2 separate regions of the Homo sapiens genome follow, and region 1 is linked to region 2. A link means that fine-mapping ties the variant in region 2 to the expression of a gene that starts in the linked region. Tissue or cell type: whole blood. Region 2 holds a variant in brackets; the other region holds the start of a gene. All regions are shown on one strand. Distances are from middle to middle.

The links. PIP is the estimated chance that this variant, and not a neighbour inherited with it, causes the effect.
Region 1: C1orf159 starts here. The variant in region 2 is fine-mapped to the expression of C1orf159 in whole blood (TOPMed, PIP above 0.99). The same link has a PIP of 0.9 or more in T cells, aorta, blood mononuclear cells, breast, coronary artery and esophagus mucosa.

What each region holds. Positions count from the first base shown.
Region 1 is chr1:1,111,782-1,119,781 of GRCh38, reverse strand. It overlaps C1orf159 (chromosome 1 open reading frame 159), which reads left to right and starts at 3,693. Exons shown (of 10, transcript NM_017891.5): 1 at 3,693-3,722. RefSeq lists silencers at 3,023-3,072, 3,113-3,232, 3,403-4,002 and enhancers at 6,979-7,273, 7,492-7,993.
Region 2 is chr1:1,086,797-1,094,796 of GRCh38, reverse strand. C1orf159 (chromosome 1 open reading frame 159) reads left to right here. Exons shown (of 10, transcript NM_017891.5): 2 at 2,694-2,806; 3 at 3,232-3,325; 4 at 4,369-4,444; 5 at 7,200-7,295; 6 at 7,593-7,658. The coding sequence starts at 3,254. Among named protein-coding and RNA genes, the nearest start is that of RNF223, 16 kb to the right of the region's middle. RefSeq lists an enhancer at 1,802-1,851. The variant G/T (reference allele first, on the strand shown) is at 3,470.

The sequences.
Region 1 (8,000 bases), 25 kb before region 2:
GGATTCCAGGCGTGAGCCACCGCGCCCAGCCGGATCCTGGCCTCTTCATGGTGCCCGCTCCTCAGGGTGTCTGCACGGGGTGGGCTCACCACCCACCTGGGGGGGAGTGTTGTTTCGAGTTTGGAGCTATTAAAATGAAGCTGCCGGCGAGTGTGTGAAGTTTTTATTTCTCTGAGATGAATGCCCCAGAATGCCACTGCTGCCTTCCACGGCACCTGCATGTTCCAATTTTTAAGGAACTGCCAAGGGCTCTCCAGGGGGCCGCACCATTCCGCAACCCCCGCAGTGCATGAGGGACCAGCTGTGGCTGTTTAAATCCTGGCCATCTGGACAGGCGGTGGCATCTCCTTCTGCTCTTAATTCACAGCCCACCAGCAAACATTTTACACTGTATTTACAAATGCGTATGTTCTAACTCGTTTGCAAACACTTTGAATTAACAAAATCTTCCCCACTAAATCACTGATATACCTCCAGACTCGTTAAACATATAGTTTGTTCCTAAAATCTCTTAAGTTTTCCAAGACCCTACATAAATGCAGTAAGATTCCACTTACACTACAGAGCCTAAATAATTTCCTCATTTGAAAGATGATTCAGTGGCAAAGCCGACCCTCTCTCAGGACAAGTTCTCTTGAGCATTATGAATGCCGGGCTGGGCACGGCAGCTCACACCTGTGGCCCCAGGTGCTGTGGGAGGCCAAGGCAGGAGGATCCTTGAGCCCGGGCGGTCGAGGCTGCAGTGAGCTACGATGGCACCACCGCACTCCTGCCTGGGCGACAGAGCGAGTCCTCATCTCAACAAAACATCCCGCCCCTACAAAACCCCATGCATTACAAACATAAGATGGTTCTATTTTAATACAAAAAATATTAGTGCACAGCTTTTTAGTTCCCCAACCTTCCCATACTGCACCTGAAGTCTCTGGGGAGGAAAGTGCTCCCTTTCGGGGACACAAACAGCCCGGTTGGCAGAGGTGGGGTCCCTGGTGTGATCTGTGGGCACCTGCGACTTACGATGCTCCCCTGTGGCTTTCAGACCTAGCATCCCTGCTATAACCTGAGGATGGGATTCAGCCCGTGTGGCCCTTAGGGGAGTAAATGTCGTTTCTGTTTTAGTCTAGAGATTGTCCTTCAACTTGATGCGACCCTACGGTGTCCTTATGTTTCCACCTGGCCTAGTGGAATCCTGCACCCTTTCGTGTTCTCGGGAATGTGCACCCCGTGCGGTTACTCAGGAGGGAGCCTCCAGGGACATCTCGCATGGCCTCGTCTCCCTTCCCCAGGGAGAGGACGAGCTATCCACTGCCCGCCTGACAGACGAGGGAGTGCCCAGTGCCCAGGCAGCTGCTGTCAGGTTGGCCCACGCCGGCAGGGGCTCTGCTCCCAGAGATCAGGTGGGTGCTGGTCTCAGAGCACAGTTCAGCAGGTGCTGGGTGGGCCCTGTTGGGGCCTGCAGCCCGGGCCCGAGGCACACACACATGCACTGCACGGCTTCCCGCAGCTCCAGGACTTTGCCTTCTTCCCTCTGACAGGGGCCAACGTGTAGAGAGGTGCAGACCACCATGAGTGACGGAACAAGGGGCGGGGACACTTGTGGACCAAGCTCCAGCATAAGGACACGGTCACCCAGGGCCACAGCCCCAGGCCAAGCCGAGGGGTAGGGACTTGACACTGACACAGGCAGCTTCCGCAGCTGTGAAACCACCCGGGAAACGCTGGTCTTCAGGAAATAGTCAAGAAAGTGGACGCCAGGCATGGTGGCTCACGCCTGTAGTCTCAGCACTTTGGGAGGGCCAGGCGGGAGGACTGCTTGAGCCCAGGAGTTTGAGACCAGCCTGGGCAAAACAGACCCCCGTCTCTACAAAAAAATAAAGAAATATGTGTCAAGGCATGGTGGCACACACCCGTGGTCCCAGCTACTCTGGAGGCTGAGGTGGAGGATCGCTTGAGCCTAGGAGGTCCAGGCTGCAGTGAGCCACGATCATGCCACTGCATCCAGCCTGGGTGACAGCGTGAAATCCTCTCAAACACAAAAAAACAAAAAGGAAGTGGAAACACTGGCTCAGCTCCACAATGAGTTGCCGCAGACGGCAAGAGCCTGTGGCACAGACTGGACTCCGAGAAGGGGACCGCGACTGTGTCCTCCCCGTGGTCCTCAAACGTCGCCCAGGCCAGGTTCCTCTTAATGGGACCGACACAGAAGCTGCACGTCCGCGGGCGCATGGCCGGAAACCCTGCAGCTGTCAGCGAACCCCTGGTGCTGGGCGCCCACGCCCAGGTGTCCCACGGCCAGACACTGGTGGCATCAACTCCTCCAGAGGCCCTGAGGGAACCCTGGGATGGACCCTCAGGCGAACACTGTCCCTCTAAAGAGAAGACACAAATGTGACTTCCCCAGCTGTCCCCAATACTGTTTACAAAACATCCTCACGCTGTTAAGATGGGGGCTTTATTTCCATTGAAATCTCTGGCATTTAAACTTGGGATGGAACCCGGAGGCGGCGTCCATCAAGGAGGAACAACCCCAAGGCGCATGCAGGACGGGCCTGGGAGCTCCCGGGAGCAAGGGAGCTGGGGGGTCTGGGGGCCTGGGAGGTTGGGGGGTCTGGGGGGTTGGGGGGTCTGAGGGGTTGGGGGTATATGGGGGGTTGGGGGATCTGGGGGTTTTGGGGGGTCTGAGGGGTTGGAAGGGTCTGCGGAGGTTGGGGGGGGCCGCGACACCTGCAGCGCCCCCCCACCCTGCGCGCTGGCCCAGCTAGGAGAGGGCCCGGGGACACCGACAGGATTGAAGCCTTTGATGAGCGGACGGACGTCCCCAGTTCCTTCGGGGAGCTCCTTTAAACATGTTTGCCGAAAGCTGCGGGCGCCGCGGGACGCACAGAGCTGTCTTTTCTCCGAGGGTGGCTCAGAGGCAGAGCCCCGGAAAAACCCACGCGCCCGGCCTGTGGGGCAGCGACGCCGCCCAGACCCCGGGGCCGCCGAGACTCACGGGGGAGCGTCCTGAGACCGCAGAGCCCTGACCCGTCCGAGAGGCGAAGCCCCGGGAGCCCTCTGGGTCCGAGCCGTCCCAGTCCCGCACCCAAGGCAGGGTCTCTCCCGCCGCGCTCCGACACCGGCCGCCGAGGTCCCAGCACTGGCGCCGGCCGCGGACCTGGGGCGCATTTGGCGGCGGCTCGCGAGGCGCTCGGGGCGCTCCGTGGGTCTGGAGGGCGCTGGCCCCGCGCGCCCGCGGCCAAACCTGGTGCAGCCGCGCCGCCTTCTCCGATGAAGCCGAAGCCGCCCCGGCCGCCCCCAAACGCTCCGCCTCCGCCTCCGCCTAAACCGGCGGAACGCTAAGGACGCCGACGCTTGTGCGGTCGCCCGGGAGACCCCGACGACGCCCCGCCCCGTCTCCCGGCAACGCCAAGCAGCCGGCGCGCGAGGAATCCGGGGGAATGTAGTCCCTCCGTGTCAGGGACCCGAGACATGCGCTGGTTCTTCTAGGACTACATTTCCCAGGGCGCTTCGCGCCCCGCCCCGGCGCCCCACCCACGGCCGCGCGCGATGGTACCACCAGGCGAGGGCGGCTCTCGCGCGGGCCGCCGGGAGTTGTAGTTTTCTTTGGGAGCTGCGGGGCCTGGCGCCGGGGCCGGGGCGGAAGAAAGACTACAAGTCCCAGGGGGCGCGGCGCCACCGCCTGAGGGCGGGGTGTACGAAAGAGAAACCCGGAGGGCGCCGGGGTGAGTGAGGGGCTGGGGGCAGGCGTGAGGGTAGCGGGTTGGGGCGCTGGGGTCCGTCTGGGCGGCCGGGTCGGCGCAGGGAGTGCGAGAGGCAGACAAAGGTCGGCGGCCCTGGCCCGGCCCGAGGGACGTTCCCTGCGCGTCCCCCATTGTGCGGCGCGCGGAGGAGCCGCCAGCGCCTGGGCCCGCGTCCTCGTCGCCGCCTCCCAACGAGCCTGGCCGCGGTCCTATGGGGGAAAGGCGCCCGGGCTGAGCGGGACGCCTGGGGAGGGGAAGGGGCGTCTGAGGAGGGCAGGGGGACCCCGGGGAGGGGTGGGGAGGGGGTCCCTAAGGAGGGGAGGGGGTTCCCGGAGCGGGGAGGGGGGGTCCCTGGGGAGGGGAAAGGTTCCCGGGGCAGGGAAGGGGGTCCCTGGGGAGGGGAGGGGGTCCCTGGGGAGGGAGGGGGGTCCCTGGGGAGGGGAAGGGTTCCCGGGGCAGGGAAGGGGGTCCCTGGGGAGGGGAGGGGGTCTCTGGGGGAGAGGGGGCACCTGGGGAGGGGAGGGGGTTCTCGGGGCAGGGAGGGGGTCCCTGGGGAGGGGATGGGACGGGCGCCCGGGGGAAGAAAGGGGGCGCGTTCGCCTCGCCTTCCCGGCAGCCGGGAGTGGGGGCACCGGCGCGGTCCCCGGTGTCCTAGAAGTCGGCCACGATTCAGGTCTTTTTCCCGCGAGGCTTTAGGATTTGTTTTTGTCCGTTTGTCACCTGGAGTAGCCGAGGGCTAGTCGGGGTGCAGTTTTTCGGGAGCGCGTGTTCCGGTGGCAGCGAGTCGATGATTGAGTTTGGGTGTAATTTAAGCCCAGGTGTTCGGGGGCATTTCTTACCGCGTTTCAAAGCAAACGCGGCTTCTTCCCCGGGAACTATTTTGTGGCTGAATTCTTAGCCGCCTCGTCCTGTTAAATTTCAGGATGTCAAACTTGGCCTCCTTTTTTTGGTTTTCATTTTTCTTAGTATTACCAGGGTGTGCAGAGAAGGCAGAGCTGCGTCTTCCTCTTTTATTTTTCCGTAAGTTACTGGGGTACAGGTGGTGTTTGGTTACTTGGTTACATGGGTAAGCTCTTTAGTGGTGATTTGTGAGATTTTGGTGCTCCCATCACCCGAGCAGTACGCACTGCACCCTATTTGTAGCTTTTTATCCTTGTCCCCCTCCCACCCTTCCCTCCGAGTCCCCAAAGTCCAGTGTATCGTTCTTAGGCGTCTTCCTGTTTCCTGATGGCTTAACCTGGGAAACCCTCGCAGAGGGAGCCGGTTTTGAGCCCCAGGGTAGGGGCGGCCGCCTGGGATGTTCAGTGATGCGCCTGATTACTCAGGTTTATGTTCCCCGTTTGCATTCAGCCAGGATCCGTCATGGCCACGTTGTTTTTAACATACATGTTTATGAATTATACAGAAACGTTGTTTTCCTGACACACATCCCGCCCCCAGTACTCCTCCTAAAAGCCAGTCAGGCAGGTGTTTCCACACGCAGTCACCTCAGCCCTGGGGTGCACAGGCAGCATCCCGGGAACCCCTGAGATACCTCCCAGCTGCTCCCTGCCTTGCGGCTGCTCTCCACCTGAGCTTTGACTTACTGGGTAGCTCATTTAAAGAACAGCTAGCGCTGTGGGTGCTGGGGTGGGAGATCGCTTGAGACCAGTCTGGGCAACATAGGGAGACCTCGTCTCTATAAAAAATAAAAAATATTATCCAGGCATGGGGGCAAGCACCTGTGGCCCGTTACAGTAGGTAGCTAGTCAGACATGAGCAGGGCAGAAGAGGGGCCCCCCTCTACCAGGGACATTTGGCTGGTAAGAGAAGGCGGCCCTGGCTGTGCGCGGTGGCTCACACCTGTAATCCCAGCACTTTGCAAGGCCGTGGGGGGAGGGGGGCGGATCAGAAGGCCAGGAGTTTGAGATCAGCCTGGCGAATATGGTGAAACCCCGTCTCTGATAAAAATACAAAAATTAGCCGGGCATGGTGGCGGGCGCCTGTGGTCCCAGCTACTCAGGAGGCTGAGGCAGGAGAATCGCTTGAACTCGGGAGGCGGAGGTTGCAGTGAGCCGAGATTGCGCCACTGCACTGCAGCCTGGGTGACAGAGCGAGACTCCATCTCAAAAAAAAAAAAAAAAAAAAAGGCCTCGAGGGAGCGTGCGCACAACTCCAGTAAACTCTGTGCATGCTCCCTCCCAAGTGCCCGCAGCCGCTGTGCGGGTGGACGGCCCACCCCGAGGGAAGAATCGGGAGACGTAACACCCCGGAAGCCTCCAGCGTGGAAGACCCTAAGTCAAAGGTCAAACTGCGCACTTGATCTCTCAGGTCTCCTGCCTGGCCTTCTTCCAAGGGCGCTTTACTTCCTTTCATTCCTGCTCTAAAGCTTCTTCATAAACTGTTGCTCCTGCTCTAAGGTCTCTTCTGCCTCCTACCCGTCCATCAAACTCTTCTGAGGAGGGAAAAATTGAGGTTCACTGCTGCTAACATGCTTTGGTGTCAGAAGTGGGACATATTCTGCCACTAACAGTCCCAGCTACTCGAGGGACTGAGGCAGGAGGATCGCTTCAGCCCCGGAGGTGGAGACTGCAGTGAGCCGAGATCGCAACGATGCACTCCAGCCTGTTTCACAAAGAAAAGAAAGAGCCACCTCTTCTCACCACTCTGGCTGAGGGTTGCGTGTGCCGAGGTGGAGTGTGGAGCTCAGGTGAGCCTTCAGAGCTCTATTACTGGCAGAATGTATCTGAGTTTCAGCACCAAAGTATGTCAGCAGCGGCCTCGATTCTCGCTGCCTCAGAAGAAAGAATTTGATGGAAGGACATGAGGCTGAAGGAGAGACTGAGGCAAGTTTTTTTTTTTTTTTTGAGATGGAGTCTGTCTCTGTCGCCCAGGCTGGAGTGCAGTGGCACAATCTCGGCTCACTGCAAGCTCTGCCTCCCGGGTTCATGTCATTCTCCTGCCTCAGCCTCCCGAGTAGCTGGGACTACAGGTGCCTGCCACCACAACCGGCTAATTTTTTGTATTTTAGTAGAGAAGGGGTTTCTGCATTTTGGTCAGGCTGGTCTCGAACTCCCAACCTCAGATGATCCACCCACCTCAGCCTCCCAAAGTGCTGGGATCACAGGCGTGAGCCACCGCACCCCACCGACTAAGGCAAGTTTTAGAGCAGGAGTGAAAGTTGTTGAAGAAGCTTTAGAGCAGGAAGGAAAGGAAGTACCCTTGGAGGAGGGCCAGACGGGCGATGTGAGAGATCAGGTGTGCGGTTTCACCTTTTGACTTGGGGTTTTATAGCCTGGCAGGCTTCTGGGGTCTTGCACCCCTTCTCCCCTGATCCTTCTTCAGGGTGGGCTGTCCACCCATGCAGCATCTTGCTAGTACTTGGGCGGGAGCATGCGCCATGTGTTCCCTGGAGGGAGGGAGCATGCCCGGTGTGTTCACTGGAGGGAGGGAGCATGCCCCGTGTATTCACTGGGGGGAGGGAGCATGCGCTGTGTGTTCACTGGAGGGAGGGAGCGTGCGCGTTGTGTTCACTGGAGGGAGGGAGCATGTGCCGTGTGTTCACTGGAGGGAGGTAGCATGTGCCGTGTGTTCACTGGAAGGAGGGAGCATGCGCTGTGTGTTCACTGGAGGGAGGGAGCGTGTGCGTTGTGTTCACTGGAGGGAGGGACCGTGCGCCGTGTGTTCACTGGAGTAGTGCCCATGCTCACCTGAGGCGTTCTTCCGTTACCTGTCAAACGTCCCTAGAAGGTCATAGAACGGTTACACGCCGCCATTTTGCCTCTCAGTGCACACGCTTGAGCCAACTCGCCCAGTTCCTGAGATCGTATCGGGAAGCTGCCCATCACCGGATTTCATGTGTTTTCTAGCTATTGGGAGCCTGTCTTTCCCTGGCGCTGGGTGCAACCAGTTCTTTTAGACAGTTAACAGCCACCTGACCATCACCTGATGGTGGCCTGACATTCCCGGTGGGGGGATGGGCCCGATCCTGCCCTGCTCACGTCTGCTGAGCCACCTACGGCAACCGCCCGACTCCGGTGTGCTGAGCCCACGGGTAGGTGGGCAGCGACTACCATGCATGTCAACAAAGGGGGATGTCTCCTTTACACCCCATCAAGGGGTTTGCGGTATTTGTTTTCTATCAAAGCACGAGAGGGATCTTTAGGTAGAGAGGCCCCAGACAGTTCTTATTGGGCCCTTAAAGCTACGTTTCACGTTGGCTTCCTTTGCTTGCTACGAAGATGACCAGCATTAGCTACACGGATGCAGTGGAAGCTCCAG
Region 2 (8,000 bases):
AAAGGAAAAATGGATGCATTCAATTTTATTAAAAATTTCATTAAAATTAAAAACATTTGCTCTTCAAAAGATGTCCATAAAAAAATGATAAGACGGGGGCCGGGCAAGGTGGCTCATGCCTGTAATCCTAGCACTTTGGGAGGCCAAGGCAGGCGGATCACAAAGTCAGGAGATCGAGACCATCCTGGCCAACATGGTGCAACCCCGTCTCTACTAAAAATACAAAAAATTAGCCGGGCGTGGTGGCGGGCACCTGTAGTCCCAGCTACTCAGGAGGCTGAGGCAGGAGAATGGTGTGAACCCAGAAGGCGGGGCTTGCAGTGAACTGAGATCACGCCACTGCACTCCAGCCTGGGCGACAGAGACTCCAATTCAAAAAAAAAAAGATGATAAGACAAACCACAGGATGGAAGAAAATATTTGCAATACATAAGTCTGATGAAGAATATGTGTTTTAGCTGAGCGTGGTGGTGACGCACACCTCTAGTCTCAGCTACTCGAGAGGCTGAGGTAGGAGGATCACTTAAGCCCCGGAGGTCAACATGGCAGCATGCACCTGTAGTCTCAGCTACTCGGGAGGCTGATGTAGGAGTATCGCGTAAGCCCTGGAGGTCAAGGCTGCAGTGAGCCACGATCCCACTACTGCACTCCAGCCTGGGCAACAGAGTGAAACCCTATGCCCCCCACCCCTGCCAAAAAAAAAAAGGTATATGTTGCAACTCCACCCAATTAAACAAAATGGGCAGAAGATGTGAGTAGGCACTTCAGAAAGAAGATATATAAGTGGCTAATAAACACATGGAAAGATGCCATCATTAGTCTTCAGGGAAATGCAGATTGTAACGACACAGAGATACTCCTGCACATGCACGGACACCCTGCGTGCACCCACATCGCCAGTGGGAGGGTATACAGCACAGCCACTGTGGAAGACGGCTGCAGTTCCTTAGAAAGTTAAACGTGCACCTCCCTGTGAGCCAGCCACTCTGCTCCCAAGAGAAATGAAGACAGATGTCCACATGATGACATGTGCCAGGACCTTGGCCGCAGCTCCATCCAGTCACCAGGAACTGGGAGCAGCCCAGGCACCCACTGGCAGGTGATGGGCAAAGGCGGTGACGTTTGGCCAACACAGTGGAAAATCCTCCGACTGTGGAAAGGAAGAAAGTGCGGATAAAACAACATGGAAGGATCTAAAGGTCAGTGTGTGCAACCCCTTTGTGTAAGACCCTAGAAGATACAGCTGCAGTCTGGTCAGCTCCTGGCTGCCGGGAGCCCGGGCTTGTGGGGGCCGCAGCGAGTGCTGGCAGCTGTGTGGGACCGGGCACCGTCCTGGCTGTGGTGGCAGCTTCAAGGGGGTGGTCACACTCACCCGCTTGTGTACTTTACACGGATGTGGTTTATTGTATGTAAAGTAGATCTCCATGAAGTTGACTAAATAGCAGATGAAAGTGTTGATTGAAATCTTGGACTTCTGGTTCCTGAATCAAAATGATGTTTTGTGACTTAATGTGGCCCTCAGGATGCCCTTTAACCAGAGAGGGAGCAGAAGGGTCTGTGATGTCTGGAGTTTTCCACTGAGCAGGGGAAGACGGTCTCTGCTGGGCAAATGTTAAAGGGACAAAAGGACAAACTAAGACTTGATTGCACTCTGTGGGTGGGGCGAGCAGCATGTCTGTGACTTCAACACGTTCCATCTGAAAGGATTTCACATCAGAGAGGAGGAGCTGAATCAGAGGAGAGCATGCTTTTTTTTTTTGAGACGGAGTTCCCCTTGCACAGGCTGGAGTGCAGTCTCCGTTCACTGCAGCCTCCACCTTCTGGGCTCAGGTGATCATCCCACCTCAGCCTCCTGAGTAGCTGGGACCTCAGGCTCCCACCACCAGGCTCGACTAATTTTAAACTTTTTGTAAAGACGGGCTGTGTTGCCCAGGTGGGTCTCCAACTCCTGAGCTCAAGCATTCCGACCACCCCCACCTTCCAGAGTCCTCCGGCAGGCTCACACCTGGGCAGCCTGGTCAGTTTGTGAGGCCATGACCTGAATCCAGCATGGAATGGGTGACAGAGTGGACCGTCCCTGTGCGGAGAGTGGACCGTCCCTGTGCAGAGACTGGAGCTGTGTCCTCCAGGGCCTCCGTCTCCCTGCTGCTCACAGCCCTTGTCCCAGGACCCCGGCCTAGGCCCATCAAGAGGAGCCCCACAGGCCTGGCTGGGCCTCAGCCCCCCTCGGGGTAACTTGCCAGGGAGGCCCCTGAGCCAGTGCAGTGACACCACTTGAGGATTTGTGCGCCTGGCAGGCGTTTCCTCCCTTAGGAAGGCAGGGCCATGGTAACAGGTCCTGTGGCTGGAAGTGCAGGGGGGAGAGAGGGGGTTTGTGCGGGAGGACCGGTGTCCACCAAGTGCAGCCTGGGCCACTGAGCTCCGTACCTGGTCCCTGAGCAAAGGCCGGGCCGAGGGCCCGTATCCCAGCGAGGGCCTGTATCCCAGGCACTCTCACCCGCAGGAGGCCAGGAGGCCAGCTCGGGGGAAACACTCGTGGAGACAGCCCCTCCAGGACGCCCTGCTCGACAGCCAGGGGCCGGCAAGGGTGTGGACAGAGGGCCCGGACCGGACCCAGACCCCGCACCGTAGGCCACGGCCCACCTGGGTTGCCCTCGCGTGACCACGGCCTCACCTGCTGTCTTCATCTGCAGGACTGGGCCGGGGTCTGCAGGGCTCAGCTGAGCCCATGAGCTCCCAGAGCTAACCCCTGAACACCCAGGCGGGCAAAGGGCTGATGTCGGTAGTCCCCATCCTGGAGGGGCAGGTAAGGCCCTGCCTACACCTCGCCCCACCCGTGCCTCCAAAGGCCCCAAGCCTTCACTCTTTCACCCCACCTCCATTTGGCTCCACCTTCCCTGTCGTGGCCCTGCACCCCTGCCACGGCCCTGCCCCATCTCCATTTAACTCAGTCATCTGCCGCGGCCCCGCCCCACCCCATCTCCATTTGGCCCCACCCTCCCTGCCACAGCCCCGCCCACTTCCATTTGGCCCCACCCTCCACCACAGCCCCGCCCACTTCCATTTGGCCCCACCCTCCACCACAGCCCCACCCATCTCCATTTGGCTCTGCCCTCCTTGCCTTGGCCCGCACCCCCCCAACATCTCTTGACCCCACTTTCATTTGGCCCCACCCACCCTGCCTCAGCCCCACTCCATCTCTTTGGCTCCGCATGCTCCTCCCTGTGGCAGGCTCTGCGCATCTGCTCCTGGCATGGCGCTGCGGCACCTCGCCCTCCTGGCTGGCCTTCTCGTGGGAGTCGCCAGCAAGTCCATGGAGAACACGGTAGGTGCCCCCCTCACGTGTCCACGCGGCCTAAGCCAGAGCCTCTGTGGAGGGCGGTGGGCCCTTCCCCTAGAGGGTCTAACCCTTCCACCTTTAGGACACTGATGTCCCAGCCCCAGAGGTGCTGACCAGGTCCACTGCTGG[G/T]GTCAGAGGGGCCTGTGCCTCGCAGAGGGGAGCCCTCCGCTGCCTGCTGGGTGAGCGCCTGCTCAGGAATGGCTGGGTCAGGCGGGGCCCCCACGGTGAGGCATCCTGGCCCGCAATGGGAGCACCTCTGCCAGCGGTGACAGCACAGCGTGCCGCGCATCGCTATCGGGGAGTGTAGCTGCGGCGGCTCCAGACTCCCAGGCGGAGCGGGTGGAGGGTGGGGACCCCTCACTGTCCTGGCTGGGGCGTTTGAGGGACCGGACCTGGGCCCCTCCCTGGCGGTGTGGATTCTATCCCGCACTCCGCAGTCACCCCTGGACGCCCTCACCGTTCACTGCATTCAGGTCACGAGAAACAGCACAGCTGTGATCAACACACAAGCTGAGGGTACCCTGAGCCCCCCAGGCCTGTCCAGTCTGCCTGTGGTCAGGGAATGGGCCCTCACACACACCGTAAGTGCCAGCACCCAGCGCACCTGTGCAGTACCTGGGCACCTGGGCGTGAATTCGTCCCCTGAAATGCCAGCCAGGCCCGGGCACTTCCTCTGTGGGGTCAAGCGGAAACCCCTGATGGAGAGCCTCCGGAGACTTGCAGAGAATGTCGGTGGCGCTGCCATGGCCTGCGGGTGCCGCCTCCTGGGGGTGGTTTACTCTTCCAGGCCCAGCTTTTCCTTGGAGACCGCCCACCCAGGGTCCCACAGGGATGTGCACTGTGGCTGTGAGGCCCCTCCTTGCTCCCAGGCCCACAGGGGACAGAGGGCCACCCGATGCTGACTCCAGAAGAGGCCGGAGCTGCGGACATTGAGATGTGCTCCCACGGCACCCCTCAGCCGCTGCTGCTCTGGGCGTGAGCCTGCCTGGCAGGCGCGTCCTGGAGTTTCACTGCCGTGTCCCCTCCAGGCCCAGCTGCCCGAGTGCTGTGTGGATGTGGTGGGCGTCAACGCCAGCTGCCCAGGCGCAAGTCTGTGTGGTCCAGGTAAGCCGCTTTGTCCCAAGCAGATTCCAGACCGGCCCCTGAGCCACTGGTGTGTGTGTGCCCAGGGCCCTCCCCTCGGTGACAAGGACAGTGCTCATCTGTGCTGCGGGACCTGGGGAGTGGATGGGGCAGTGAGGGCTGTGGAGCTTGGGGAAGGACATCTGAGCCTCCTTTCTGGCGGGCGGCCTTGAGCGGCAGCCTCATGAGAAGACTGGCCCAGCAGAGGGCTGGGAGCAGAGGCAGGAGCTGAGATCAGAAAGGTGCCTGGAGAAGGGTCTGGGGGAGTGGCCCATGAGCTCAGCCATTCTCACGGGGCTGTCCTGGCTCCAGGGGCCTCTGGCAAAGCCCAAGACATTTTTGCCTGTCCGTGCTCGGGCAGAGGTGCTGCTGGCCCCTGGTGCGTGGAGTGGAATGCCAATCAACAGGACGCCACGAGGATGCCGGCCTGTGTCAGCGTGCCACGGGCAGGCCCTGTTCATCAGAGGTTCTGGGAGGCTGCGGAAGGGACTGTCTGGGGGCAGCTGGGTGTCAGGAGGTTGAGGCTGGTGAGGGCAGCCAGTGGGAGCAGCCAGGGGAGGGGAGGACAGAGTGAGAAGGTGCAAGGGCCACTCCTTGGCGGCCCTTGGTGAACTTGGGGCTGAGATGCCCCAGCTGTACCTCCAAGGGCCTTGGCACTCCCATCCTGGGGGTCCAGCCCTCCCATGATGGAAGAACCCAGAAGGGCTGCTCCTGGGGACTCAGGGGCCTCGTGAGGAGGGCGTGGTCAAGACGGCGGCTGTGGCAGCCAGTGAGGCTGGGCGCGGGGGTCCGAGGCTGGGCGTGGGGGTTGGGGAGCCCACAGGAAGGCAGTGATGACATCTGAGGCACACGCAGGGTAGGAGGAGGAGGGCACCGCTCTGAGGGAGAACAGAGGGGCTGGGAGGAAGCTGAGCACCTTGGGGTCCTCATCGTCTGATGCTGAAGCCCTGGTGGCTGGGTGAGAACCACTCCCCTGGCACCCCATGGCAGCAAGAGTGCTGGGGCCGTGGCGTCTCCTGTGAGGGATTGTGTACCCCAGGCACTCTGTGGGTGCAGGCAGCTGTGCAGCAGTCACGGTGCCCATGGAGGGGCCAGGCCAGCGGGTCGTGAAGTCCAAGGGCCGAGGTGGCCCCATGCACAGGCGCAGGGTGGGGACCGTCTGGCGCGCGTGGGGAGGGGCCGGGCCTGCGGTGTTGGATACGCTTCCCCCTGCGTGCGGCCCCAAGCCAGGTCACGTCTCCGCTCGGGGAGGCAGCGGGCACTTCTGGGGACAGTGCTGCGCTGGTGTTTGGCTCCCTGCCGTGGACTCCGTTCTTCGGCCTCCGGGGCAGAGACTCTCAGACAGAGCCTCGCTGAAGTCGCCCGAGCCCTGTGCCAGGAGATGCCGGGAGACAGAGGCTGCCCCCAGTGCTGGGAGAGCGCAGCTCCACCCTGGTAGGACTGAGCGGGTGGACTTCCATTCTTCCAAGAGGTGTGTCTGCAGAGTGACCCCTGTCACAACCGTGCCGGGGTCTCAGGCCCACTCTCCACCGCGGGGTCCCCGTGTCGCCGCGGCCCGTTTGTATTCAGATCAGTCTGTGAGGAAGGGTCGAGGCGTGTGGTCCACCCGTGGCCCGCACCAGCAGCCGCACCGCAGTCGGCATCAAGAGTGTGTCTACTCAGCTCTGGGCTGAGTGTTGGAGATATTTAGAAAGTCAAGGAGTAAAAGTCAATTCCTGTCCTTAAAGGCGCCCTGGCCGGTGGGCGGAAATGAGGCTTCAGGCGCAGCGTCGGCCTGGCGGGGGGATGAGGCTTGGTTCTGCAGGATCCCCCGAGAGAGACCCGGGGGAGGGTGCCAGGGTGTGGAGGTGACAGATGGACCAAGGGTCGGGATCAGCTTGGGGCAGGAGGCTGTGCTGCTGGCGGGTGGGCCTATCCTGCTTGGGCGGCATGAGGGAACACGGGGTGCGAGGCAGCCGCTCCAGGCACTGCAGATGGGGGTCTTGGGGGAGGCGTGGGGGGTCCTGGGGGAGGCCGTGGGGGGGTCCTGGGGAGGCGTGGGAGGGTCCCAGGGAGGCGTGGGGAGGTCCCGGGGAGGCGTGGGGGACCCTGGGGGAGGCATGCGGGGGTCCTGTGGGAGGCCATGGGGGGGGGGTCCTGGGGGAGGCCGTTGGGGGATCCTAGGAGAGGCGTGGGGGGGGTCTTGGGGGAGGCCTGGGGCAGGCGTTGCAGTGGGGGTTCTTGGGGAGTCTGTGGGGTGAAGGCTGGGTGGTGGAAGCCGGGCCCAGCCTGCAGTCCTGCAGAGCACGAGTCCCTCCAACAGGCCTGTTCATTCTGGATGCTGCCGCCTACCACTCTCTGAAGTACGCAGTGTGGAGTACTCAGGGTCGGGGTGCTCAGGGCCGGGGTGCTCGGCGTGGAGTGCAGCGTGGAGTACTCGGGGCTGGGGTGCTCGGCGTGGAGAGTGCAGCGTGGAGTACTCGGGGCCGGGGTGCTCGGCGTGGAGAGTGCAGCGTGGAGTACTTGGGGTCGGAGTACTCAGGGTCAGGGTGCGCAGTGTGGAGTACTCAGCGTGGGGTGCTCACGGCCCCGCCATGCTCCCTGGGGGTGTCCTTGTCTGCCGCCCACCTACCCTCCAGAGCATGTTAGTATCTGGAATGAAAGTTATCTCACCAACTCAAATAGAGAATCATTCCCAGGAGACCCAGCTGGTGTGGATTTTGCTTTGGCTGACATGCCCGTCCTCTGCCCCACGCAGGCTGTTACAGGCGCTGGAACGCGGACGGGAGCGCCAGCTGCGTCCGCTGTGGGAACGGAACCCTCCCAGCCTACAACGGCTCCGAGTGTAGAAGCTGTAGGTCTGCCCGGCTCCCCCCGGCTCCCTTCTCACAGCTCCAGCTGTGGGAGACACTGTGGGAGTTGCTGTCTGTGTCCCCACCTTGCCCCAGAGCCACTGTCCACTGGGGAACAGCCCCGGGAGCCCCCTCTTCCCGAGTCTGCTGGGCCATTCGGGACAGCTCTGTGGTGAGGGCTGCTCCGCCCCCTCAGCCCCTCGCTTTCATATTTCCGTCCTGAGATCCCTTCAGGGTGCACGTGGGTGTCCCCGTGGGCTCCGTGCACACAGGCTTCCCACAGTTCTGCTATCCCACAGTTGCTGGCCCGGGTGCGCCATTCCCCATGAACAGAAGCTCAGGGACCCCCGGGCGGCCACATCCTGGTAAGTCTCAGCAGGCCACAGCCACCTCTGCCGGTGTCCTGGGGGCTGGGGGCCGTCGGAGCCAGTGCAGACCCTCACCCTTGACGCAGCCACAGCAGGCTCAGGGTTCTGCAAAACAGCCAGAGGGGAGCGTGGCAGCCCCTGCAGCTTGGGGTCAGCTGGTGTGGGTGGGGGATGTGGGGCGTCATGGGGGGCTCTGCCACATCTCTAAAGGGCCGTAGTTAGGGGAGGCCCTGATGGCCACACCGCACTCTCTCAGGGTCACACAGCTCACAGCCACACGCTCTCAGGTTCACACTCATGGCTCACGGCCACACCGCACGCTCTTAGGTTCACACTTAA